7 linked regions of the Homo sapiens genome follow. The protein of the gene in region 4 purifies or fractionates together with the protein of the main gene of each other region. This does not show direct contact. Each region holds a gene or a part of one and is shown on either strand. Other genes may lie near its edges. The genes, in order: AGBL5, ZRANB3, ANKRD27, TPCN2, FBXO10, ZDHHC18 and TRAPPC8.

Region 1 (3,500 bases), on a different chromosome or scaffold from region 4:
GGTTGGGTGCAATGGCTCACGCCTGTAATCCTAGCACTTTGGGAGGATGAGGCTGGTGGATCACCTGAGGTCAAGAGTTCAGGACCAGCCTGGCCAACATGGTGAAACCCGTCTCTACTAAAAATACAAAAATTGGCCGGGCACAGTGGCTCACGCCTGTAATTCCAACACTTTGGGAGGCCGAGGCAGGCGATCACGAGGTCAGGAGTTCAAGACCAGCCTGACCAACGTGGTGAAACCCCGTCTCTACTAAAAGTACAAAAATTAGCCAGACGTGGTGGCGTTTGCCTGTAGTCCCAGCTATTCCGGAGGCTGAGGCAGGAGAATCACTTGAACCTGGGAGGCAGAGGTTGCAGTGAGCCAAGATCGCACCACTGCACTCCAGCCTGGGCAACAGAGCAAGACTCGGTCTCAAAAAAAAAAAAAAAAAAAAAAAATTAGCTGGATGTGGTGGCATGCACCTGTAATCCCAGCTACTCGGGAGGCTAAAGCAGGGGAATCGCTTGAACCCAGGGGGTGGAAGGTTGCAGTGAGCTGAGATCACACCACTTCACTCCGGCCTGGGTGAAAGAGTGAAACTCTGTCTCAAAAAAAGAAGGAAAGGAAAAGAAACAGAAGAAAAACTTTAAGCAGATTTACCATGGGAAACTAGGCCACTGGAGCATGAGAAGATACAAGTTGGAACAGCTGTGCAATCTTGGAGAAACCACTCTTAAATAGCCTCAGTTTACTTGTTGGAAAAATGGAAACAACATCCATCCCATAGCGTCTTTGTGAGGATTAAATGAAATTTATATATATGATATTATCTTGTTCACTGTTAAATGCTATGTAAACATAAGGCATTATTATTATTTTTCAAACACAGTGCACAAGTGTCCTTTCCTGATGAAGATAGACTCTCAAACAATGGGGCCTGGAAGCAGATAATCAAGTTGCCTGTCAGGGATAGAATATCTCAATGGTCACAGCTGGTAAGGACCATTGCCCTCTCCTCCATGGCTTCTCTCACTAGCAGTCAGATTTACACAGCCACTGACACAGCACATGTCTGGTCTGTACCAACAGCTAGGGTGCAAGCTGGGAAAAGCTAACAAGGATGAGTATGCTGGAAGACCAGCAAAGCTCTTAGCCCCAGCTGACAAGCCTCCATACTCTGGGCAAGACTTCTGTAGTGCAGAGGCCAGTACAGTATTGATTTGTGGTTTAGCGTATTTCCAGAAGTGGCACTATAACAATCTCTCCCCCTCCGCAATCCAGGTTACTCCCGTTAATTTTCTCTTCTTTTTCCCTAAAGGCCCATCTGTTTCTGGTATATAATTTTGACCCAGAATCTTATCAGGCAGGGTCTCATCAGGCAAAACCTGGGGGTTACTAATGCACAGTTAAGCAACTGTGCTCACTGCTGGAAAGAGCTAGACTGCTGCATTTTATACCTAGAAAAGAAATTGTCTGCAGTTGTTCCATTTTTCTTTGGAAGAGTTAGAATCCTTCTGATATCACTTTCTTTTCTTTTTTTGAGGCAGAGTCTTGCTCTGTTGCCCAGGCTGGAGTGCAGTGGCACGATCTTGGCTCACTGCAACTTCTGCCTCCTGGGTTCAAGCGATTCTCCTGCCTCAGTTACCTGAATAGCTGGGATTACAGGTGTGCACCACCATGCCTGGCTCATTTTTGTATTTTTAATAGAGACGGGGTTTCGCCATGTTGGCCAGGCTGTTCTTGAACTCCTGGCCTCAAGTGATCTGTCTGCCTCAGCCTCCCATAGTGCTGGGATTATAAGCATGAGCCACTGCACCCAGCCCGGTATCACTTCCTTAATGAGCTCTGAAGCCAGGAAAAATTTCAGCCCATAAAGACCACAGATAAGATTCCCCATCATTCTACAGTACTGCAGTTTGGATTCTGAGGACATTCCCTTAACTGCCCCCATGAAGACAGACTGACATTGTCCGTGACGTGGAGGCTCCATGTCCTGTTTGGCACTGCTTCAGCTAGTGTTTCATCCTTGGAAACTTCCCTGGCTCCTAGCATGCACTGAAGCCCAGATACCCAGACTTCCCCCTCTGGCCACACACAATACCGCTCTGGAATCATGCCGCAGGGAACACCAAGGTCGTAGGAGAGGCCACAGGTTCTGCTACAAACTAATTTTATTGATTCACCCCTTGGTCCTGGGCCAACAGTATATCTTCAAGCTCTTACTTCCCCCAGCAATGCCCCAGACAACCGAACACATGTTGCAGGGGCTCCCAGACTGGCTTACCTCTGACGGGGCCCAGCACCCGGTGGGTGACCTTTTGGGTACTAGAGCCCAGGCCTGGCAGCCCTGCAGGCCGACTGCCATGAAAAGGAAAGCTGGGGGAATTCTTCATCTGTGGAGAATTTTGTTGGCTGCTGCTGCTACCACCGGCACTTGTGCCGGTGCTAAAACTTCGTGCCCGACTCAAGGTGTTTTCGGAGCAGGAGACAGGCAACCCACTGCAAAGAAGCAGATGCCAGTTAACCCGGGCCAGGAAGGTTGTGTCCTAAGGCTTTCCCTAGGATCTGCTGCTCAGTAAAGCTTCACCTCTGGGGTAAAAAGGCACAGGGACCCATCCCAAGGAAGAAGTGAGGAATTCATGTCCGTGGATGAAGTATCTAACCTGGGGAATACCAGCTAATCTCAAAATGTCTTAAGGGCCATCCCTGAGCAGCTTTATCTCCCAATGAATTTCACCCCTACTGCCTTGGCACTGACCCTTGAACTCCCTTCAGTCAGTCATTCACAACCCTTGGAAGCTGAGGCCTGCCCCACTGCAATTATATTTGATTTTGTACAGGGCTCTGCAGCAGTGAATCCCAAGCCTGATACTCAGATCTCTTAGGTGTATGTAGCTCAGAATAAAAGGGAAGAGGATCCCATTCTAAAAGAATAAACTAATCTGACTAATTTTAATTTACCCTGAAGATATTTGCCATTTGGCACTTTGAGGAGGATGGAAGGAATATAAATCCCTTGGAACTCCTAGCTCTAGAGCCCTGTCCCACTGTCCTACCCTTTCTCCCTCCTATTTTGCTGGCCTTACTTGTGACTTTTGGGTGGAGTTCGAAGGCCCCTCTTCTTGTTGACACCCACATTCAGAGTGCTGCTTAGGCCTCGGCTGTTGCGTACATGTTTCAGCATCCAGGCCCGTAGATTAGTAAGGCTGCTGTGCTCTGACAGTACAATTCGGGGCCACGGATTACATTCCGCCATGTCCAGGGCTGCAATGGCCATAGCTCGTCCCACCTGTGGGGTAGTCCAGTTTGGCTCAGCATGCTGGTCCTCCCATCCAGGCTGCTACCTTGGGGTGGGTACACAGCACAGTGGAAGGGAAGGAGGGGCCAGACCTATAATTTGCTCATTGGATGCCCTAACCTTTGTGCCCAGGCTGTTTATTGCAAACGGATTTGGAGCTGTTCCCTAAACTACCGCCAATTTGGGGGCCCTCTTCCATTATGAGGGGCAAAGTGTGTCCTTT
Region 2 (4,289 bases), on a different chromosome or scaffold from region 4:
ATTACAGGTATGAGCCACCAGGTCAGACCTCTACAAGTCTTATTTACCTTCATTGAGCCTCACTTTCTTCAAATATAAAAATGTCAAGAAGACTTACAGTTTGTCATAAGGAAAATGTACTTATCACACATAACATCATTTCTGGCTCAGACGAAACTCAATAAAATGATGGCCATCATTACTATTTAGTGACTAGATTTACACTGGAAGAACTCCTGACACAAACAAATAAAAAAAAAAACTAAGCATCTACAGTAGACTGCATTGCTAAATTATCACTGAATATCCTAATTGCATTAAAAAGCAAGAGACAACACTTTGCCTGGTAGATCTACAAAAATGTCTTGCTGCAAGGTATGGTTACATTCCTATATCTAGCAGGATTACACTATAAAATTTACCATCTTACTTTGTATACAAACATCACTCGTTAGTATTGGACACAGATTAGTGCTTTAGTAAAAACAATGCAAAGAGGAAAACGTGCTTATTTTAATCCAAAGGTAGAATGTAAAGAAGGGACCAAATAAACATACAAAATGTGACTAAAGAAGACTTGACTTAGAGATTGAAACAGTAAGTGACATTACAATTTTGTTTAGCCTCTCTCTTCCTCACAACTTTTGGACAAGGAGCCTGTCTTTTTAGGCACTGCTCTACCCAAAGTCTGGTATAGTACCCAATACAGTGTTAAGCGCTCATACCATAAATACAACAGGATTTATAAGAGAAAATCTCAGTAAAATCATGGAGTAAACTGAATTAGAATTTATCTGAGAAAGTCTCAGTCAAAATAATAAAGCAAAGAGTTTAAGAATAAAGGGCACACGCATAGGGAGGGAAAAACCCTTTTCTGTAACTTGTATCTTCTTTATTCAATCAGTTTTCCTGGGTACCTTAAATGGAATGTCCAAAAGTATACATACAGTCGCCCTTGAACTCTGAAGGAGGCATAAATCAGGGCCTTACGTGCTAAGATTATTAGGCTGTGGGCTCCATGTGGCCGATGAATAAAGGCATCTTTTTAGTGATGCCTTTATTCATCGGTGTATTATAGTTGGCACCCTGTAGTCACACGTTTTTTGTTTTTGTTTTTGTTTTGAGACGGAGTCTCGCTCTGTCACCCGAGGCTGGAGTGCAGTGGCGCGATCTCGGGTCACTGTAACCACTTCCGAAGTTGAAGCGATTCTCCTGCCTCAGCCTCCCGTGTAGCTGGGACTACAGATCCTACAGATCTCTGCCACCACGTCCGGCTAATGTGTGTGTGTGAGTTTTTAGCAGACACAAGATTTCACCATGTTGCCCAGGCTGGTCTCGAACTCCTGACCTCAAGTAATCCTCCCGCCTCGGCCTCCCAAAGTGCTAGGATTACAGGTCTGAGCCACCGCGCCTGTCTGCCACTCGTTTAATAAATGGTCGTTACTCAAAGAGTGGTGATGGGGCCACTCTTGATTATCAATCCTTCAAACAGAAAAGCCCTTTTCTGTGACTCTTTTCCTTCCAAGCTGACTTTAGAAGTGTGTTTGTGGCCGGGCGCGGTGGCTCACGCCTGTAATCCCAGCACTTTGGGAGGCCAAGGTGGGCGGATCACGAGGTCAGGAGATCGAGACCATCCTGGCCAACATGGTGAAACCCCGTCTCTACTAAAAATACAAAAAATTAGCTGGGCTGAGTGGCGCGCGCCTGTAATCCCAGCTACTCCGGAGGCTGAGACAGGAGAATGGCGTGAATCAGTGAGCCAAGATCCCACCACTGCACTCCAGCCTGGGGACAGAGCAAGACTCCGTCTCAAAAAAAAAAAAAAAAAGTGTGTCTGTAAATGTAGTTCAGAACTTCGGAGCCCTGTCTTTACAGTTCAAACTGACCACGCGAAGACTAAAGGCAGTAGAGGTACTTTCTACAAATTTAGCCGTGCAATCTAATAGCGAGCAGGCCGAGACGCCCGCGATTGAAGGCCGGGGTGGAGAAAGTAATAAGGGCCCTGGAAATTACCCCCATCCCATGTCACCCACTCTTTCTTAAAATGCCATTAAATTCCGTTCAACTTTTTATCTCCCATGCAAGAAACTAGCGACTTGCCAGCCACGCCACTTCCAGCCAGTCACACCTGGCGTATTCGCCGCAGAATCTCCAACTCCCGCCACAGGTTTGGGACGTGTCCGCCCCTAAGCGGAAGTGACGTTCAACGGGACAACGTGAAAGTAGATGAGTTTAAATACGTACTAATAATTTAAAACCCCTATGGTATTTTGAGGAAACTCTTCCGGCTACCCTTCTTCCATCACTTCTCTCCCGTTAGGGTTGCGAAAAGGGCTCTGTACAGCCTCGCGACAACTCGTTCTCCGCCCTAATTTCAAGTCATTCAAAACTCTGTCCCTTTTCATTGGCTGAAGCGGCGGCATGGGTACCTCTCAGGAACTACAATTCCAGCCAAGCACCGCGACAAGTGAACGGAGGAGAAGTTATGAGTAGGGGAAAAGCATGTTGGGAATCGTAGTCCGCTCCAGGCCGAAAAGAGCAATCACCCCGCCCTCCGCCACTGAAGCTGGAGAAACCAGGTGTTCGTTTCAGAACCCGTTAGCGCTAAGGGGAGGAGCCAACCCCTTAAGCAGCATGCCTCACTTCGCCCCACATGGAGGATAATTTTCCTTTACCCCTAAAAAGCACTATAAATACCCACTGAGGAGATCTGGTTGTCTTTTAAATACCTCGAGTCAGTAAAAACTCACGAAACTCCGCACCTCAGGCTCCAACTCGTGGGAAAAGGTAGCTCTTTTACAAGTGGGCAAAATGGCTGTCCTCCTAGTTTTACCATTGGTTGGCTTTTGCGTCCTTCAAGGGCGGTTACTTACCACGGATTGGTTCTTTTTCTCTTGAGGTTGGAGGAAGATTTGGCACGGCTCTCCGCGGCCTGGGAGGAGGTAAAGGGGTGGAGAGAAGACAGTTTTTTTCAAGCTTGATTGGGCAAAACTCATGTCACTCCGGGGACGTACAACCTATGAATAGTCGGCTGCCGCTCAAAGAGAACGAAGAGGCGGGGCTAGTGCGTGGTGGGAAGGGGCGGGATTCTGCCAGCCGCGGCTGCCGCTGGAGCCGGTGTCCGGGCTGGTGATGGGGTTAATTCCCTTTCGTAAGACTCTTACTTGCACCCACCCAGCCCCGCCGTCGCCCCGCCGCGCCGCGCTCCAACCGCCTCCTCCTCCTCAGTAACGCGGGTAAGAGATGCCCTTCCCTCCCCCGTCCAGCTCCCCGGGAATAACGCGCCTTGCTCCCCTCCCCCGCCCGCCAACCGGTAGCGCTAACGGAGAAGGAGGCAGGCAGGGGAGAGATGTGGTGTGTGGAAAGGTGGCCTTCCCCGCCGGGTCGTCGGCGCTTCAGCCAGGGCCTTCTGACGTCCCGCTGCTGCCAGCCCGCCGTTAGGTCGGGTTCCGAGTGAGCCAGGCTCGCCTGGCCCGCGGCTGCGGCTCCGGCTGCAGCTGCAGCCACTGCCTTGTGCCCACCGCCCCCACCCGGGGGCCATGTGAAAAGCAAACCCCTCGAGGCCTAGCGGAGGAGGCAGGGGAAAGGTTTCCGAGTCCCTGCCATGGCTGCTGCTGCTGCCTCCGCGGCTGCTCTTGCAGCCCCAGGGACTCGGGAGCCAGCCACAGCAGGCCTGCCAAGAGCGTGGTACTGCTCTCTCGTGTGGCTGGCGCCGGTGCCCCGGGCTCCCCCGGCCGCCCCACGGCCGCATCCCCTGGCCTTGCACCAAGAGAATTTTCAGCTTCGACCGGTTGGTAAAATGTAGGTACATTTTCCCTGTGGTACCAGAAAAAGCACAATGGGAATATTAAAAAGAAAGTTGAATGACTGTCAGTGCCACGGTCCCCCGGGATCAGATTTACACACGTTTTGATTCCTGAGCCTTAGGCTGCCAACAAATCTTTGTGGGCTTTGAAGTTTTTTGGTGTTTTGTTTTCTTTTGTTGCTGTGACTAGGTGCAAAGGGTGACTCTGTTGAGCTTGTTTTTATAAAGAAACTTAAATTATTGGGACTATCATGCTCCGTGTGTAATTGTCCTGGGATAGTTAAGTAAAAGGTGAAGAAGAGGTGCTTTCCAAATTAGGATTAGTGAACAGCAAATGGTTTTTCTAATAAAATTTTCTAAATATATATATATATATCTTCATGGTTATAGTTTACCTAATTGTAACTGTAAGAAACCTTTTTTAGCTTAAATATCATTGATGACAAAAACTTTTAAATGAAAAGATGATTAAAGTCAAACTGAAAGTCTACCCATTTATAATATG
Region 3 (3,500 bases), on a different chromosome or scaffold from region 4:
CCAAAGGTTATTCCTTGTCCTTTACAATATCAAATGAATCAGAATCACCTTGTCAATTACATGAAAAATCCTATTAGGATTTTTATTGGACCCGCACTAAATTCATGAATTTTTTTTTTTTTTTTTTGAGACAGAGTCTCGCTCTCTCACCCACACTAAAGTGCAGTGGCACAATCTCAGCTCACTGCAACCTTTGCCTCCCGGGTTCAAGCAATTCTCCTGCCTCAGCCTCCCAAGTAGCTGGGATTACAGGCACCCGCCACCACACCAGGCTAATTTTTGTTTGTTTGTTTGTTTGAGACAGAGTCTTGCTCTGTCACCCAGGCTGGAGTACAGTGGCATGATCTTGACTCACAGCAAGCTCTGCCTCCAGGGTTCACGCCATTCTCCTGCCTCAGCCTCTCAAGTAGCTGGGACTACAGGCGCCCACCACCATGCCCAGCTAATTTTTTGTATTTTTAGTAGAGATGGGGTTTCGCTGTGTTAGCCAGGATGGTCTCGATCTCCTGACCTCGTGATCCGCCCGCCTTGGCCTCACAAAGTGCTGGGATTACAGGCATGAGCCACCGCGCCCAGCCTGCCGTTTTTTTTGTTTTTCGAGACAGAGGTCTTGCTCTGCTGCCCAGGCTGGAGTACAGTGGCGCAATATTGGCTCACTGCAACCTCTGCTTCCTGGGTTCAAGCAATTCTCGTACCTCGGCCTCCCAAGTAGCTCAGACTACAGACTACACGCCACAACACCAGCTAACTTTTTGTGTGTATTTTTTGGTAGAGACGGGGTTTCGCCATGTTGGCCAGGCTGGTCTTGAACTCCTGGCTTCAAGTGATCTTCCTACCTCGGCCTCCCAAACTGTTGGGATTACAGGCGTGAGCCACCACACTCAGCCCTATAATTATGAATTTTATCATCCACATACATGGTATATCTTTCCATGAATGTCTTCTTCGATGTCCTCCGACTTTTCCATAAGGATCGTATACGACTTTTATTAGACTATTTATATATTCTGTATAGACTTTGCTGCTGTTGTGAAAGGGGTTGCTAAAATTAGATTGCTTATTTTAGGTAAGGTTCTAAAAGCAAAAGCCAAATGGACTTACATCAGAGTCACGCTGTACAGATAAAATAAGAATCAGTATGGAACACACCTACCACTACCATCAGAACTGGGACTTCTGAAGCCAGAGAAGACCCTTCCATGATTCATGACTGAAAGGTCTGTGAACGGCCAAAAGAAGATTACAGGTCAGTGTTCAACTCACTTTAGGAAGTAAGCTGTTTGAAGGATGTTGCTGTCTGCAGACTGCTCCATGCTGCTAACTAATGTGAACCAGTGCTTTGTGTGTTTCATGAAACATTCTATAGCTGCTCCTCATCACCCCTGGTCTGCTCCTCTGAGCCAATGAGCTCTCAGAGGGGGTGCCTACAAAATGGGCACAGAAAAGGAAATCAGATTTCTATTTTTTTTTTTTTTTTTTTTTGAGACAGAGTCTCACTCTGTTGCCCAGGCTGGAGTGCAGTGGTGCAATCTCGGCTCACTGCAACCTCCACCCCTGTGATCAAGTAATTCTCCTGCTGCCTCAGCCTCCCTCGTAGCTGGGATTACAGGTGTGCACTACCACTCCCGGCTAATTTTTTTATTTTTAGTAGAGACGGGGTTTCATCATGATGGCCACGCTGGTCTCAAACTCCTGACCTCAAGTGATCCGCCCACCTCGGCCTCCCAAAGTGCTGGGATTACAGGCGTGAGCCACCATGCCCAGCCAGGAGATCAGATTTCTAACCACGTCATCCCACCTCTCTGAGCCTCCATCTGGGCCTGCACCACAGAGAATGCTAATACCTGTCTGCAGGACTCTTATGAGGGTCATTTCCATGCCACCTTCACTATCTGTGACATGCAGTACTGCATATCAACATAGCACCAGTTACTGCAAGCTCACATGGGACCTTTGTGAGAATTAGAAACAGGCACCCGACTTCCCAGGGGGCGCAGCTCTGTGCAAGGGCACTAGGCTAGTGAGCAGCTCCTAGGTAACATGCTGCACGGCCCCTGCTGCTGGGCAGTGAACAACCTGCCCACAATGTGAGCACAATTTTGCCCAACAATTACACATAATGGCTCTCTTGCTAGTGTTTGACATTTTCCTTCAATAACTTATTGTCTTTATAAAAATGTATTTTCCTTTCTGTTTTATTTTTGTTTACTTTTGTAGAAATGGAGTCTCGCTGTGTTGCCCAGGGTGGTCTTGAACTCCTGGCTCAACAGGCATATGCCACCATCCTTGGCCTAAAATTTATTTTAAAAAGAAATCTTATTACTACTTTAAATAGAAAAATGGTATCACTTCCAACGAAGAGAAGATCATCTTAAAGTTAAAAATTATAAAGGTAATTACTGTTATTTAAAACCTCATAATCCCAGCACTTTCGGAGGCCGAGGTGGGCGGATCCAGCCTGGCCAACGTGGTGAAACCCCATCTCTATTAAAAATACAAAAATTAGCCGGGCGTGGTGGCACACACTTGTAATCTCAGCTACTCAGGAGGCTGAAGCAGGAGAATCGCTTGAATCCAGGAGATGGAGGTTGCAGTAAGCCGAGATCATGCCATTGCACTCCAGCCTGGGCGACAAGAGTGAAACTCCGTCTCAAAAAAAAAAAAAAAAGTCATTAGATGCTAAGCTTGAGCCTGGGGCCTTCTCTCTTCATTAAAATGAGAAAATCAGCAACTATTTAAAAAGCGTAAAAGTGAATTTATCCTTGATACAATTAAATGAATGAAATATGAAATAGGAGCTACTCTCTCACTATGTAACAGGGATCCAGAATGCTTCCTTGGGAAAACACTATGCATACATAACTGCATGATGAATTCTATTCCTTGGAACTAATGGTAAAAATAGCCACCATTTGGGAGAGTCCTTGTACCAGGCACTGCAATAACTTCTATACATCCTCATCTTTACTTACTTACCTTCATTTATTTATGAGTTGGGGTCTCACTCTACTGACCAGGCTGGAGTACAGTGACACAATCATAGCTCACTGCACCCTCAAACTCCTGGCCTCAAGCAATCCTCCCACCTTAGCCTCCTAAAGTGCCACAATTACGGGTATGAGCCACCTGGCCAAGCCTAAATTTTTTGTTTTGTTTTGTTTTTGGTAGAAACAGTGTCTCACTATGTTGCCCAGGCTGGTCTCAAACTCCTGACCTCAAGTGAGCCTCCTGCCCTGGCCTCCCAATGTGCTGGGGTTACAAGGCATAAGCCACTGTGCCCAGTCTTATCTTCATCTTTTTTTTTTTTTTTTGAGACGGGTCTTGCTCTATCACTCACACTGGAGTACACTGGTACAATCACAGCTCACTACAGCCTTGACCTCCTGGGCTGAGGTGATCCTCCTGCCTCAGCCTCCCAAGTAGTTGGGACTACAGGCATGAGCCACCATGCCTAGCTAATTTTTTTTTTATTCTTTGTAGAGATGGGGTCTCACTAAGTT
Region 4 (3,500 bases):
GCAGGAGGTACGGGAAGTCATGCCTAGGGTCTGGAGCTGAATTGTAGAGGAGGAGCGTGAGGCCTGCTGGGAGGTACACAGTGTGGGGTGGGAGATGGGCCGGGGCAGGGCCACCTGCCTTAGGGAGTTCTGTCGGCTCTATGGACCTCAGCGTCTGTTAGGTGGTGTGCCTCAGCTGGCTCGAAGCCTGGCCCTAAACCTTGCTCCATGGGCGCTCGGTGGGTTGCTTTACATTTGGGAACGTGGTGGTTTGACTGGGTGAGGGTGGGACGGGGGATGCCCGGGAGGCCTGGACCCAGTGCTGTGGTCCTGCCGTCCCCGGTGACTGCTGGAGGCCAGCCTGCCCTCCAGGCCTCGGAAGGCCTTGCTCTGCTCCTCCACTCTGGCTTGGGCTGAGGCCCAGGAGGGGCCCGCCTAGCTCTCCCCAGCAGGGGAGCCTGTCCCTACCCGTGGCTCTGTGCCTGACAGCGCTCCCTGCCTTCTAACTTCCTCTCAGTGGCCCCTGTGCCCCCTCCCCCAGCAGACTGTGGAGTCTTCACCAATTAGCTCACGTGTCCTTGGGAGCCCCTGACTGGACAGACGAGGGGACAGTGCCATTTTATAGGTGAGGCCTTGGAGGCCTCAGTGCTATTGATGCGGCTGTGAGGCAGGAAGGGCGGCCTGTGCGACAGAGAGTGGCCATCACAGGTGCCTCCATGCCAGGGCCTGCCTGCGGGGTTGCCCCTTGGCCAGCAGCTGGGATTGTGGCTTTGAAACGATCCCTAAGAGAGGAGGTTGCTTTGTGTGCCAAGTCCCGCTGTGCCACCTGCCCCCACAGTTCATACAACCAGTCTGGTTTGCGGGAACCACCCATCTTCCAGCTGGGGGGTCTGGAGGCTTGGTAGGCAGAGGGTGCCCATGAGCCTGGCCCCAGTGAGAGCCCCGGGCCCGGAGTCTCAAGCAGAGTTGCTTTCCGAGCAGAAACACTGCATGTGCCAGCTGTGTTTTGTGGCTGGGACCCCTCTCAGGAGGGAGAGAGGATAGGGACTCCGGTGTGGATGCCCCCTTACCAATGGCTGTGATTCGCCACAGCCACGAGCACAGTGCCACTGAGTCCCGTGGGTGGCTATGGGCGGCCGTGGGCCCTGACACACAGCCTCTAGAGCAGGCTTCACGAAGGGTCCAACCTATCTCACCCTGGCAGCCTGGGCCCCTCTGCTCCTCCTGCCCCTCCTGCCTCTGCCCCGTAGCCTCACTGCTTGCACAGTGCATGGCAGAGTCGGCTGCGAGCAGGCGAGGTGGCCTGAGGGAGGTCACTAGGCTGGCTGAGGGCTTTTTGCTGTGGTTCTGAGCCGGCCTGCTTCCAGGCACCGTGTCCATGCGGGTGAGCGGTCTCCCTGGGTGCCCACTCTTGCGCCCGGAGATCCTGAGTTTGGTCCTGTCTGGCCATGAGCTCAGCCTGCTGGGAGGCCACAGGGAGATGCAGGCTGGGCGGCGGGTGGATGGTTCCAGCCGGTTGGGTCCGGGGCCTGGAGCTCAGCCTGTGGGGTGGGGACCCAGTGGTGCCCTGGAGCTGCCGCTTCTGCTCTTAGCAGGATGATGGGCAGGACAGGGAGAGGCTGACCTACTTCCAGAACCTGCCTGAGTCTCTGACTTCCCTCCTGGTGCTGCTGACCACGGCCAACAACCCCGATGGTGCGTGCAGGGCCAGGGAGGGACCGTGGGGGTCGGTGAGCCCAGCACTGGGGGGCCGGTTTGGGCTGCTGAGCCTTAGAACCCAGTGGGAGTTTCTGAGGCCTTTTTTTCGATAAGTGGAGAAGAAAGGGTGACATTTTCCTTCCTCCCCTTCTTTTCCTATCTCTTCTTTTTTTGTCTTGGTTTTCTTCTCCCTCTCTCTTGTCCCTTCTCTTTCCTTCTTTCCTTTTCTGTCTCATTCCTTTGCTTTCTCACTCCCTCCTCCCTTTTTCTTTTCATCTCCTCTTCCTCCTTGTCTACTCACTCCTCTGAGAAGCTGAAAGTGGCTGGTGTTCTTCATAGGGCGATGATGGCAGTGGTCAGAGGGGTCTCCTGGTGCCGTCCTGCTGGAGCTCCACACATCCACGCTGCGGTTGCTGCCGAGGTTCAGCTGTGGGAGCCACTGGGCAGCAGCATGTGAGGGCCAAGGGTCTTACTGGCCACGACGCTCACCCTGTGTGATGCTCATGGGGCCTCCACTGCTCAGGTGCAGGTGTGGCCAGGATGGAGGCCACGGTCCTGGGCTTGGCTGTGGCCCAGCCACCCTGGCTGGTGCCTTTCATCTTGCGGACCCTGAGTGCTGTCTCTTGTGTCCTCTGAGTCCTAGGAAGTGACCGCAGTGGGAGCAGGACCGTCTGAGTCCTAGGAAGTGACCGCACTGGGAGCAGGGCCGTCTGAGTCCTAGGAAGTGACCGCACTGGGAGCAGGACCGTCTGAGTCCTAGGAAGTGACCGCAGTGGGAGCAGGACCGTCTGAGTCCTAGGAAGTGACCGCACTGGGAGCAGGACCGTCTGAGTCCTAGGAAGTGACCGCAGTGGGAGCAGGACCGTCTGAGTCCTAGGAAGTGACCGCAGTGGGAGCAGGACCGTCTGAGTCCTAGGAAGTGACCGCACTGGGAGCAGGACCGTCTGAGTCCTAGGAAGTGACCGCAGTGGGAGCAGGACCGTCTGAGTCCTAGGAAGTGACCGCAGTGGGAGCAGGACCGTCTGAGTCCTAGGAAGTGACCGCAGTGGGAACAGGACCGTCTGAGTCCTAGGAAGTGACCGCAGTGGGAGCAGGACCGTCTGAGTCCTAGGAAGTGACCGCAGTGGGAGCAGGACCGTCTGAGTCCTAGGAAGTGACCACAGGGGGAGCAGGACCGTCTGAGTCCTAGGAAGTGACCGCAGTGGGAGCAGGACCGTCTGAGTCCTAGGAAGTGACCGCACTGGGAGCAGGACCGTCTGAGTCCTAGGAAGTGACCGCACTGGGAGCAGGACCGTCTGAGTCCTAGGAAGTGACCGCACTGGGAGCAGGACCGTCTGAGTCCTAGGAAGTTACCGCACTGGGAGCAGGACTGTCTGAGTCCTAGGAAGTGACCGCAGTGGGAGCAGGACTGTCTGAGTCCTAGGAAGTGACCGCAGTGGGAGCAGGACTGTCTGAGTCCTAGGAAGTGACCACAGGGGGAGCAGGACTATCTGAGTCCTAGGAAGTGACCGCAGTGGGAGCAGGACTGTCTGAGTCCTAGGAAGTGACCGCAGTGGGAGCAGGACTGTCTGAGTCCTAGCAAGTGACACAGGGGGAGCAGGACCGTCTGAGTCCTAGGAAGTGACCGCAGTGGGAGCAGGACCGTCTGAGTCCTAGGAAGTGACCGCACTGGGAGCAGGACCGTCTGAGTCCTAGGAAGTGACCGCAGTGGGAGCAGGACCATCTGAGTCCTAGGAAGTTACCGCAGTGGGAGCAGGGCCGTCTGAGTCCTAGGAAGTGACCGCAGTGGGAGCAGGACCGTCTGAGTCCTAGGAAGTGACCGC
Region 5 (3,494 bases), on a different chromosome or scaffold from region 4:
GCCACGATTTCTTTTATATGACATTTGGGAAAATGCAAATCTATGGGGGATAGAAGTTGGTGGGTTTCCAGTCACCCAAACTCTTGTAGAGAGCATGGAGGGCCAGGGAAAATAAAATGATAGTGAAGCTGTGGTCAGAGTTTTCTGATGCTTGAGTTACAAGGAACCAACTTTACACACTAAGTCTCCATTTGCTTAAGGCAACACATTGTCTTATATGTATTTTTATGATAATGATGTTACAATGAAAGGACTGGAAAGGTGTGGACGGAATCAGAGGTTGGCTACTAGCATGTGAATAAAAAGGCCTAAGCTATGTTGGGAGGACTGTATGTATTTGAGTTTGGCAGCAGGGGAGCACTACTGAAAAGGAGTGATGAAATGAGAGGCTGGAAAAGACAATTAGGACCTCAGGGTACACAGCGGACAATACCAGAGCTGGCATTGGCAAAGTCCGGGCTGTATCCTGTACCCTGGGGTCTCCAAAGGGAAGGAGGAGGTGGATCCCAGGGAGTCCACAATATAATCTGCTGGGATATTGGAAGAAAATACTAGAATTTTGGTTTTTTTTAACTGTATACTTTAAAATTTTCTATTTTGGGGATAGTTTATAATGTAAATAATATACTGCTAGAATACACATATATAAGTTATAAATAGGTATACCGGTGAGGCGCGGTGGCTCACACCTGTAATCTCAATACTTTGGGAGGCCAAGGCGGGTGGATCACCTGAGGTCAGGAGTTCGAGACCAGCCTGGTCAACATGGCGAAACTGTCTCTACTAAAAACACAAAAATCAGCCGGGAGTGGTGGTGGGCGCCTGTAATCCCAGCTGCTCAGGAGGCTGAGGCAGGAGGATCGCTTGAATCTGGGAGGAAGAGGTTGCAGTGAGCCAAGATCGCACCACTGCACTGCAGCCTGGGCAACAGAGTGAGACTTGGTCTCTAAATAAATAAATAAATAATTAGGTATACCTACATCGGGGGGTTTCTTCAAAGAATATTTTTTCCCGAGAGTGTGTGTAATACAAAAAGTATGGAGATCATTACAACAGAACATGAAGATCCATGAGAGGTTTTAAACCATGGATGTGATGTGACTGACCAGAGCTCTCACTTAGAAAGATTAACCTGGCAGGATGCATGGGACAACCTCCAGAGTGGAGCAGGGGGTGGCCACGGGCAGGGAGACTGGCAGGAGGCTGCTGCAGGGGGACAGGTGACATTGGCGGTGCAGGAGTGATACCAACTACAGCAAATATCAGTATGATTTTACAACCAGAATGTGAAAGCGAAAGCACGGACCAATCAGAACACAGCCCAAGCAGAAGCAACTGGAACAGCTGTGCATTGCAGTAACACAGGCGGTACAGGTTAGGGTGAGCGGTGCTGAGACCTGAATTAGGATGGGGGCAGTTGGGGAAGAGGAGGTGCTGGAAAAAGGAACATTTTAGAAGCAGAATCAACAAGACCTGGTGACTGACTGACTGGACATCTTCGGATTAGGGAGAAAAAGGCAGCAGAAGTTTTGTTGTCAGAACACTGAGTGGATGGTGATGTCGCTGAAATGGAGAACGTGAAAGGACAGACAGGTTTGAGGAAGATGGGTGGCGGCAATTGTGATACATTGAGGCAGAGTGACTAAAGGACAGCAGCAGCATCAACTAACATTTTTACAGCCCCTCAGAGATTCAGCCAGATAGTGTGATCTTATTAAATGGATTTTACTAAGGCTCGAAGATGTGAAGTAAGTTGCCCAAGGTCACACAGCCAGTAACCTGCAGAGCTGAGATCTGAAACCACATACCCCTGACTCTTAAAAAGCTTGTTCCCTCCTGGGGAGTCCTCAGCCCGGGCCTGACATAGAGCCAGGCACAGGCCTTTTTCTGACTGGAGTCGACAGCTGGCAGGGTTGCAGGGAGCCCGGGCAGCCACAATCCCTGGGTGTGGGCCTGGCTTCTTCAGGGAGCTTACTGTGGCTCTAGAGGACTCGTTCAGGCAACCCCAAGCACTCACTTTTTCTTGAAGACCAGGAACTTGTTGTTTTGCATGATGCATTCTCGGTTGTTTGAGATCTGCTGAAAGATGGTCTTACTGGTTTTGCCCTGGAAGATGATGTTTTCCTGCACCAGGGCCTTGGCACGGCCCCGCACGGCGATGCCGTAGGCCCGGAACGAGTGGATCCGGTTCTTTATTACCTGGGAGAGGCAGCCAGAGATTGTCACACCTCAGGGATTCACAGACTGAGTGGGAGAGCTGGGCAAGTGAATTATCAGTTCTAAAACCAAGAGGCAGGAACATGCCAGGCAGGTCAGTGAAGAGCCTATGAGCTCAAAGAAGGGCACCAAGAACAGCCTGGGGGAGCCAGGGAAGGCTTCCTGGAAGAGGTGATAGGTGAGTTGTAGGCATTTATCAGATGCACAACAGGGAGAGCTGTTGCAGGAAGGAGAAACAATATGCAAAGGCCTGGCAGAGAGGGGAGGCAGTGTCAGAAGTCAGGGCCACTGGCAACCCAACTGAGACGAAAGTGTGTCCCTCTCTCCCTTCCTCTGCTCCCACAGTGCTCAGAGGCAAAGCCCCAGCATTTTTACTCTTTGCCTAAAGTCACTAACCCACGAAGCTGCAGAACTGTAAAGAGGCTTTAGGCGACCCAGCAATCCCACTACTGGATGTCTACCTAAAGGAAAAAAAGTCATGTGCACACGCATATTGATAGCAGGACAATTTACAATTGCAAAAATATGCAACCAACCTAACTGCCCATCAGCCAAAGAGTGGATAAAGAAATGTGGTATAGGCTGGGTGCAGTGGCTCACACCTGTAATCCCAGCACTTTGGGAGGCTGAGGCAGGTGGATCGATCACCTGAGGTCAGGAGTTTGAGACCAGCCTGACCAACATGGTATCTCTACTAAAAATACAAAATTAGCTGGGCATGGCGGCACATGCCTGTAATCCCAGCTACTTGGGAGGCTGAGGCAGGAGAATGGCTTGAATCTGGGAGGCGGAGGTTGCAGTGAGCTGAGATCATGTCATTGCACTCCAGCCTGGGCAAAAGAGTGAAACTCCATCTCAAAAAAAAAAAAAACAAAAAAAAGGTGGTATATATATACCACAGAATACTACTCAGCCATAAAACAGAATGAAATAACAGCCTTTGCAGCAATTTGGATGGACTTGGAGGCCATTATTCTAAGAGAAGTAACTCAGAAACGGAAAACCAAATATCCTATGTCCTTACTTGCTCACTACTTATAAGTGGGAGCTATGCTAATGACGAAGAAAAGGCATAAGAATGATATAATGGACTTTGGTGACTCAGGGGGAAGGGTGGGAGCAGGGTGAGGGATAAAAGACTATATATTGGGTACAGTGTACACTGCTTGAGTGACAGGGGCACCAAAATCTCAGAATTCACCACTAAAGAACTTATCCATATAACCAAAAACCACCTGTACCCCAAAAACTGTTGAACTAAAAATAAAAATAGAGCC
Region 6 (3,500 bases), on a different chromosome or scaffold from region 4:
CCTCCTCCTCAACTGTCAAGCTCCATGAGGACAGGGACTATTGTCAGTTTTGTTCACTGCTGTATCACATCTAGAAAAGTGCCTGGCACATAGTAGGGGGTCAATAAATGTTTGATGAGTGAATGAATAAGTGTATATGAATGTTTAAGAGCAGGTGCTCTAGACTGAGGTCTCATCTCAGCTCTTCTACTTACTTTGTGATCTTGGACCCTCTTTTGCCTTGATTTAATTAATCAGTAAAAGGAGAATGACAACAGTACCTACCTCATAGGATTACTGGGGGATTAAATAAGATCATGCATATAAAGAGCTTAAAACAGTGCCTAGCCCCCAGGAACTACTCAGCTCCACGCTGGCTGCCATCGGGGCCTTTGCTGGCTGGCCAGCATTTCTTGCTTACTTATTTGCTCACTTGTTGATCATCTGTCTCCCTCTGTGCCAGTGTCAGCTCCAGCCTGCCTTGCTCACGACTGCATCCCCAGTTCCTAGTATAGTTTTGGAAGAGAAAACCAGGCCTCCTCCCAAGTCAGGGAATGTGGAGCTATGGAGACCCAGCTTCAGCTGGGAGTAGAAACCTCACCGATCTGTTTCTCCAGGGCGGCTGCTTCACAGACAGTGGCCCGGGGCAGGATCCCAGGGTCGGTGAAGCTTGTCTGCAGCAGGCAGCTCATGACGAAGAAGAAGAGGATGGCAGCGATGATGGGGATGGCAAGGGTCAGCTTGCGAGCCAGGTAGGGACAGCTAGAACGAGAGATGGAGAGAGATCAGCAGACACCCCAAGGGCTCCCTGCGGCACAGGGCTACAGCACGTGGCAGGCGCTGTCATTCCAACAACCACCACCAAAATCTTGAATACAGCCTCGCTCTGAGGCAGAGGCACAGCTCCTTGATGAGTGCAGCCACTCCCCAATAAGTACCGGGAACAGACATCACTAATTGATCCTTGTGATATACTTTCCTCCAGAGCACATGGCAGATGTGTCCAATAGATCCCAGCACTCCTAACCTCTGCATCCAGAGAATCCCTCTACACACAGAGCTTCAGGCAGACACTAGTGGACTGTCACCTGAGACAAACCATCCTGCAGTGTTCATTCACTCATTCATTCACTCACTCAGTCCACAAATATTTACTGAGGTCTTCTCTGTGGCAGGCAACACCTTCAATAAGCAGCAGGAATAATGACGACGGATAAGACAAGAGTCCCTCCCCCTTGTGGCTTATGGTCTAGTGGGGAAAACAAGACATGTAAACAGGGAATTGCCACACAGGGTGATGTGTGCTCTAGTGGGGGAGGGGAACGCAGTAGCACAGTCAGGAAAGGCAACCTGAAGGAGACAATCCTAAGCTCCAACCTGAAGAATGAGTAGAGGGCTGGGGGAACTGCATGGTCCAGCCACTGTCACTGTGACCCAAGGTAGGCAGGTATCCCCAAGGCAGTGCTTTCAGACCCCCTGACCCTGGCTGCCTCAGAGAATAGCCTGTGCCTGCTGAATGGTCATGCCTCTGTCCCCCAGGGAGGCTGCCTACCACAGCCCTCTTCAAGCTCCCTCCTCCATCTTAGGGCTAGAACATTCTAGAAGTTCTGGACACTGGTGGGAGAATGGCTTCATGATAGTGAAGCTATCAGGGCTCTCTCTCTATGGCCAATCCTCTCTGTTGTCACCTCACTGTCCACCCAGAAGCCAGAGCCACTTTTGGAAATGTCAATCAGATCATGTCATTTCCCTGCTTAAAACCTCCCAATTGCTTTCCATATAGTTTGAATACAATCCAAACTCCCTACCATGGCCTTCTAGGCCAGGCATGATCTGGGCCCTACTGAGGACTTCAGCCTCATTCTACAAAACTCTCGTCTTGCTCCTGCTCCTCCCATCACAATAGCCCATGACAGTTCCTATAACAAGCCTGGCTCTCTCCTACCTCAGGGCCTTTGCACTTGCTGTTCCTTTTCTCAGATTCCTCTTCCCTCCTCAGAAGGACCTACCTTGACAACTCTGTACACAGTGAACTTCAATGCTCTTTCTTTCCTGTATAACATTTAGTATAGATTTCAGCTACTTGTCTATGTGATGGCTATTTTTCTCTCACTAAAACATAAGCTTGGCCAGGCGCAGTGGCTCACGCCTGCAATCCCAGCACTTTGGGAGGCTGAGGTGGGCGGATACCTGAGGTCAGGAGTTCGAGACCAGCCTGACCAATAAGATGAAACCCCATCTCTAATAAAAACAGAAAAATTAGCAGGGTGTGGTAGCATGTGCCTGTAATCCCAGCTACTCAGGAGGCTGAGACAGGAGAATCACTTGAACCCGGGAGGCAGAGGTTGCAGTGAGCCGAGATCGTGCCATTGCACTCCAGCCTAGGCAACAAGAGCAAAACTCTATCTCAACAACAACAACAACAACAACAACAACAAACAAACATAAAAAAACATAAGCTCCTCTGTGGGTATAGACTATGTTCTCTTGTTCAGCTTTATATTTCCAGCACACTGCACAGCACCTGGCACCAAGGACGTACCCGGTAAATAACTGCTGCCAGGGGACAGAAAAATAGCTACCATCTTTTGAAGGCTTACTATGTGCCAGACACTGCCCTAATTAATAAACTACTGTTAGCAACATCCAAAGTACAGATAGTTACTGTGCTATGTACAGATAGTTACTGTACTATGTAGATAGTTACTGTACTATCTACAGATAGTTACTGTACTACTGTACCTGGATGGGCCAGGTACCAGGCTAAGCAGTTCCTGTGTACTTTCTCATCAAATCCTCACTGGGACCCTGTGAAGTTATGCTCCCCACTTTACAGATGAAGAAACTAGAGCTCAGAGAGTTTAAGTAATCTGCCCAAGGTCACATGGCTCAGGAGTGCTAAAGTGGGACCCAAGCCAGGTCTGACTTTGAGGTTCATACTTTTAACCATCACCCCATAGCCAGAGTAGCACCTGATCAGGTAAGGAGATGACGGGGCCCTGGGAGGCCTGAGATCAACCAAGCTTCCAGGAGTGGCACAGTAGGCACACACCTGTGGGCACCTGCATGCTGCTTCTGAAGTCTCCGTCATCAGATGCTCTGGCCTTCAGAGAAGCCCTTCCCCTGAGGAGCAGACTGCCAAGGCCAAGGGCTCCCAGTGGGTCACACTCTGCTCCATACATCTCAATGGTTTCTGGGTCTGACCCTCAAACAGAACCAGTGGGCGCTCAGTGTCACCCACATGGCAATGAATCCAGTTCATATGCAATCAGACTTGTGTGGGGGGACAGAGAAGACTTGAAATCTAAGACTTGTAGAGCCTGCAGGAACCACCAAGTCCTAGCCTCCTGATTTGCCAGAGGCTAACAGCTCTCCCAGGCCCACAGCTAGGTTCAAGGTCATCTAGCCAGCCAATGACAGAACTAGGGTTTCCAGCCTCCCAGCAAATACACTGTCAATTAATTCAAATACACTGTCAATTCATTCATTCAATAAGTATTGAGCACCTACTGCATACCAGG
Region 7 (3,500 bases), on a different chromosome or scaffold from region 4:
AATATGTTAAGCAAGAATATTAAGATATGTAATTACTAGTTTTATTTCTCATATCAGTCATAAAATTTTACAACTCAGAAGCACTTCAGATATTTATTCTGCCTCAAAAGAATCTTACTGAGGTTACTCAGCTAATTACCTGGATGTTAAATATGCAAAACTTATTTTAGTAAGCGTTTTACTTCTTATGACTCATTATAGCATCCTATCTGCCAAAATTCTAACCCATATAATTTCAAATTAATAAAGTCTAGACCCTAAAGGTAGTTATTTTCTGCACGATAGATATAATATGCACTATTCATAGGCCTTGGGAAAAAATTTACAACTTCCCATTTTTTCCATAAAACAATGCTTTATATGTTTATCTGCTTGCCTCAGTGAAACAGTCCTTCTTCCTGTTAATTTTTCTCCATTGCACCATAATAGCCTGTCTACTTTCCACAGATCCATACCCCCTCATCTTTCACAAGGAAAAGAACATAGAATGTCCATCTCCAAAGGATGGTAAAGAGAACCCACTTAAAACCAACTGTAAAATCAGTTGTGAGTCTATAAAAGCATGATGAATAAAGAATCCAGAAAACCTGTGGAATCTTTTTTTTTTTTAAGATTCTAAGAACAGCCACAAATCAAGTGTTCATTGTAATATTAAAATTCTCTTTTCAAGAACTGTGGAAGGGGCAATGTAACCAAGATCTATAGCCAAAAAGCCTAGCCTGCCACAGCTTTTTTATGACTGATAACTACATATATTCTAATAAAACTATCGTAAGATATGGTAATAAATAAATACTTTCACACTAAAATACAGTTTTAATATCTATTCCTGAATGAAAATAAGCAGTCACCTTGTAAACATAAAGATATTCTCTGAGGAAAGCCCCCTGTTGAGCAGCAGATTGTTTACTTTCATTAATTAGAATATGCCTAAAAGCAGACACAGCATTATCCAGCTGTCTAAGAGTATAGGACTGGCGCCCAATAGTGAAATTAATGTGATCCTCTGCAAGAGACCAGCCTTTTCCTTTGTAAACTTGCATGGCTTGACAATAACAGCGTAAAGCATGCTTTTTCTGTAAGAAAATAAACAAAATAATGTATTATACTCCAAATTTGTTTGAACTAGAAAAAACAAATACAAACACACACATAGAAACAATTAAGTAACTGGTTCTTCCTCTAAGGGGGACTGGGATAATGAAGAAAATAAAACTAACATTTATGATAATCCCTTCACAATTATATATGGAATGATATAGATAAAGTTACCTGAGCCATTGTGTGTGTGCGTTAGATAGGAGTAGGGTACCTAAAGGAAGAAAAGGGAGGCCAGACTGCTTTGACATTTACCCACTACTTCTCTGAGCCACAATTTCAAAACGTCAACTTCAGAGGAAAGAGCTTACTTCTCAACTTGACTTTATCTACCTTAAATTCTTTCTGGAAAAAGGCAAGGGATATGTAAACAAACTTCAACATTTAAAATGGTCAGATTTCACTAATATGATGATGAAAAAAATGTTCTCATACTTTAACTAGAAGCATGCTATGTCTACAAAGAGTTTCTCCATATTAAGTAAAACAATAAACACATTTATCAAAGTTTTTTCTTGCCTACGATCAGAGACTTACATTGAATGTATGTGGCCACATATGCCACAGTTTTCCACAGTACAAATAATATATAATAATATATATAGTAGTATATATAATAATATATAAATAAACTTTTTTTTTCTATATTAAAAATTCACATACTGGACCAACCATGCTGATCCCAGCCTGCCTGCCTGCCTGCCTGCCTGCCAGAACTCACTGGCCAGTGTTGTGACCACTGAAAGGTTATGCCTCACACGGTTCAAATAAAGCAGTGGGCTAGGACAGCAGCACAGTAAACACTGCCTGGGCAAGACATGACGGGGTTCTCTGCCAGCATCAGGTGCTACCACAGCCTCCTTTTCAAGGTGCTGTTGGCAAGTGTCAGGGCATACTTCCTGGTATTCAGTGCATTTACTGCAGGACTTAAGAAGAGCAAGAGATTAATAATATACCAGAATGATATACAAGATGTGTGTTCAAAATGGAAAATTGCAAGGAATGCCAAAATCTTACAAGTATTGCAATAAGAATGCAATATTTGTGGCAATAAACATCATCAATGTAAAAAATCAAAAGAGGTACACAGAAAGACAGATCCTGCATGTTCTCACTCATATGTGGGAGCTAAAACAGTGGATTTCATGAAAATAGAGAGTGGACTGGTGGTTACCAAAGGCCAGGGAGAGTGGGTGATAGAGAATGAAGTTGATTAATGGGTACAAATACATGGTTTGATAGAAGAAATAAGACCTAGCGTTAGACAGATCAGCAGGGTGACTATAGTTTACAACCATCTACTCTACATTTCAAAATAGAGAATTTGAATGGTTCTAAGGTGATGGATATCCCAAGTTCACTGACTTGATCTTTATAAATTATATGAATGTATGAAATTATCACGTATTATACCCCAAACTATGTATGTTTATTATGTATCAATTTTTTTAAAAGGAGAGTATTTTCTTCAAGATCGCTTACAGCCGGGAGGGGTGGCTCACGCCTGTAATCCCAGCACTTTGGAAGGCTGAGGCGGGCAGATCATGAGGTCAGGAGATTGAGACCATCCTGGCTATCATGGTGAAACACTGTCTCTACTAAAAATACAAAAAATTAGCCGGGCATGGTGGCGGGCGCCTGAAGTCCCAGCTACTCAGGAGGCTGAGGCAAGAGAATGGCATAAACCTAGGAGGCGGAGCTTACAGTAAGCCAAGATTGTGCCACTGCACTCCAGCCTGGGCTACACTGCGAGACTCCATCTCAAAAAAAAAAAAAAAAAAAAAAAGATCACTTACTAGGGACCTCAGATCCTCAGATGCCAGTTCTCCTCAGAAAGATCAAAGTAACTAATTATCCAAACAGAAAACTGAGAAAAGACAGCCAGGATATGATGAAGAACCCATGGAAAGAAACTAGAGTGCAGGAAAGAAAAACAACAAGAGTTTGGCAGGGATCGAGTGCTGAGGAACACAAAACCCCATGGAAAGGGTAAGTGGGAGTACTTCTCTGCTGCCCTCACCCCTCTGACCATCTGTTCACCATCCAACTGATGGGGAGTCCCTCTGCCCTCATGATGCAGGACAACACTAACAGTGGCAGTTTGAGAACGTCCCAGGGACAAGGATGTGGGTGGCCAGCTCACACAGGCATGCCCGCCCTCCTTTCAGGCCTGAACTGAGACAGGAGATACCACTGCCCTGCCCAGGAAATCTCTGCTCTTGAGTCACCACCGCACCACCAGATCCCTAACATATTCACAACTGCTGTGACATTAGCAAGTTTAGGAGACCAGTGGGTCCCCAGAGAAGGTGTGAGACCCATGGAGATGTAACCGTTAATTTAGGCTGCCCCTAGGGGAAGGGGGGACAGTAGCCTGCCAAAGCCCCACCTTGAGACAAAGG

What was found.
Region 1: the proteins of TPCN2 (region 4) and AGBL5 purify together in Homo sapiens (affinity purification with mass spectrometry; 2 studies listed by BioGRID and IntAct, with this or other methods). This does not show direct contact.
Region 2: the proteins of TPCN2 (region 4) and ZRANB3 purify together in Homo sapiens (affinity purification with mass spectrometry; 2 studies listed by BioGRID and IntAct, with this or other methods). This does not show direct contact.
Region 3: the proteins of TPCN2 (region 4) and ANKRD27 purify together in Homo sapiens (affinity purification with mass spectrometry; 2 studies listed by BioGRID and IntAct, with this or other methods). This does not show direct contact.
Region 5: the proteins of TPCN2 (region 4) and FBXO10 purify together in Homo sapiens (affinity purification with mass spectrometry; 2 studies listed by BioGRID and IntAct, with this or other methods). This does not show direct contact.
Region 6: the proteins of TPCN2 (region 4) and ZDHHC18 purify together in Homo sapiens (affinity purification with mass spectrometry; 2 studies listed by BioGRID and IntAct, with this or other methods). This does not show direct contact.
Region 7: the proteins of TPCN2 (region 4) and TRAPPC8 purify together in Homo sapiens (affinity purification with mass spectrometry; 2 studies listed by BioGRID and IntAct, with this or other methods). This does not show direct contact.

Annotation. Positions count from the first base shown.
Region 1 is NC_000002.12:27,058,168-27,061,667, reverse strand, and holds part of AGBL5 (cytosolic carboxypeptidase-like protein 5), read right to left. Parts: intron 3,269-3,500; coding exon 3,066-3,268; intron 2,479-3,065; coding exon 2,264-2,478; coding exon of another isoform or gene 2,199-2,263; exon of another isoform or gene 2,133-2,198; intron 1-2,132. UniProt on the Homo sapiens protein: Metallocarboxypeptidase that mediates deglutamylation of tubulin and non-tubulin target proteins.
Region 2 is NC_000002.12:135,528,419-135,532,707, forward strand, and holds the start of ZRANB3 (DNA annealing helicase and endonuclease ZRANB3), read right to left. Parts: upstream 2,801-4,289; 5' UTR 2,709-2,800; intron 2,313-2,708; exon of another isoform or gene 2,080-2,312; intron 1-2,079. UniProt on the Homo sapiens protein: DNA annealing helicase and endonuclease required to maintain genome stability at stalled or collapsed replication forks by facilitating fork restart and limiting inappropriate recombination that could occur during template switching events.
Region 3 is NC_000019.10:32,665,181-32,668,680, forward strand, and holds part of ANKRD27 (ankyrin repeat domain-containing protein 27), read right to left. Parts: intron 1-3,500. UniProt on the Homo sapiens protein: May be a guanine exchange factor (GEF) for Rab21, Rab32 and Rab38 and regulate endosome dynamics.
Region 4 is NC_000011.10:69,065,932-69,069,431, forward strand, and holds part of TPCN2 (two pore channel protein 2), read left to right. Parts: intron 1-1,571; coding exon 1,572-1,674; intron 1,675-3,500. UniProt on the Homo sapiens protein: Intracellular channel initially characterized as a non-selective Ca(2+)-permeable channel activated by NAADP (nicotinic acid adenine dinucleotide phosphate), it is also a highly-selective Na(+) channel activated directly by PI(3,5)P2 (phosphatidylinositol 3,5-bisphosphate).
Region 5 is NC_000009.12:37,513,887-37,517,380, forward strand, and holds part of FBXO10 (F-box only protein 10), read right to left. Parts: intron 2,200-3,494; coding exon 2,018-2,199; intron 1-2,017. UniProt on the Homo sapiens protein: Substrate-recognition component of the SCF (SKP1-CUL1-F-box protein)-type E3 ubiquitin ligase complex. Mediates the ubiquitination and degradation of BCL2, an antiapoptotic protein, thereby playing a role in apoptosis by controlling the stability of BCL2.
Region 6 is NC_000001.11:26,829,688-26,833,187, reverse strand, and holds part of ZDHHC18 (palmitoyltransferase ZDHHC18), read right to left. Parts: intron 742-3,500; coding exon 581-741; intron 1-580. UniProt on the Homo sapiens protein: Palmitoyltransferase that catalyzes the addition of palmitate onto various protein substrates, such as CGAS, HRAS and LCK. Acts as a negative regulator of the cGAS-STING pathway be mediating palmitoylation and inactivation of CGAS.
Region 7 is NC_000018.10:31,873,629-31,877,128, forward strand, and holds part of TRAPPC8 (trafficking protein particle complex subunit 8), read right to left. Parts: intron 1,077-3,500; coding exon 852-1,076; intron 1-851. UniProt on the Homo sapiens protein: Plays a role in endoplasmic reticulum to Golgi apparatus trafficking at a very early stage. Maintains together with TBC1D14 the cycling pool of ATG9 required for initiation of autophagy. Involved in collagen secretion.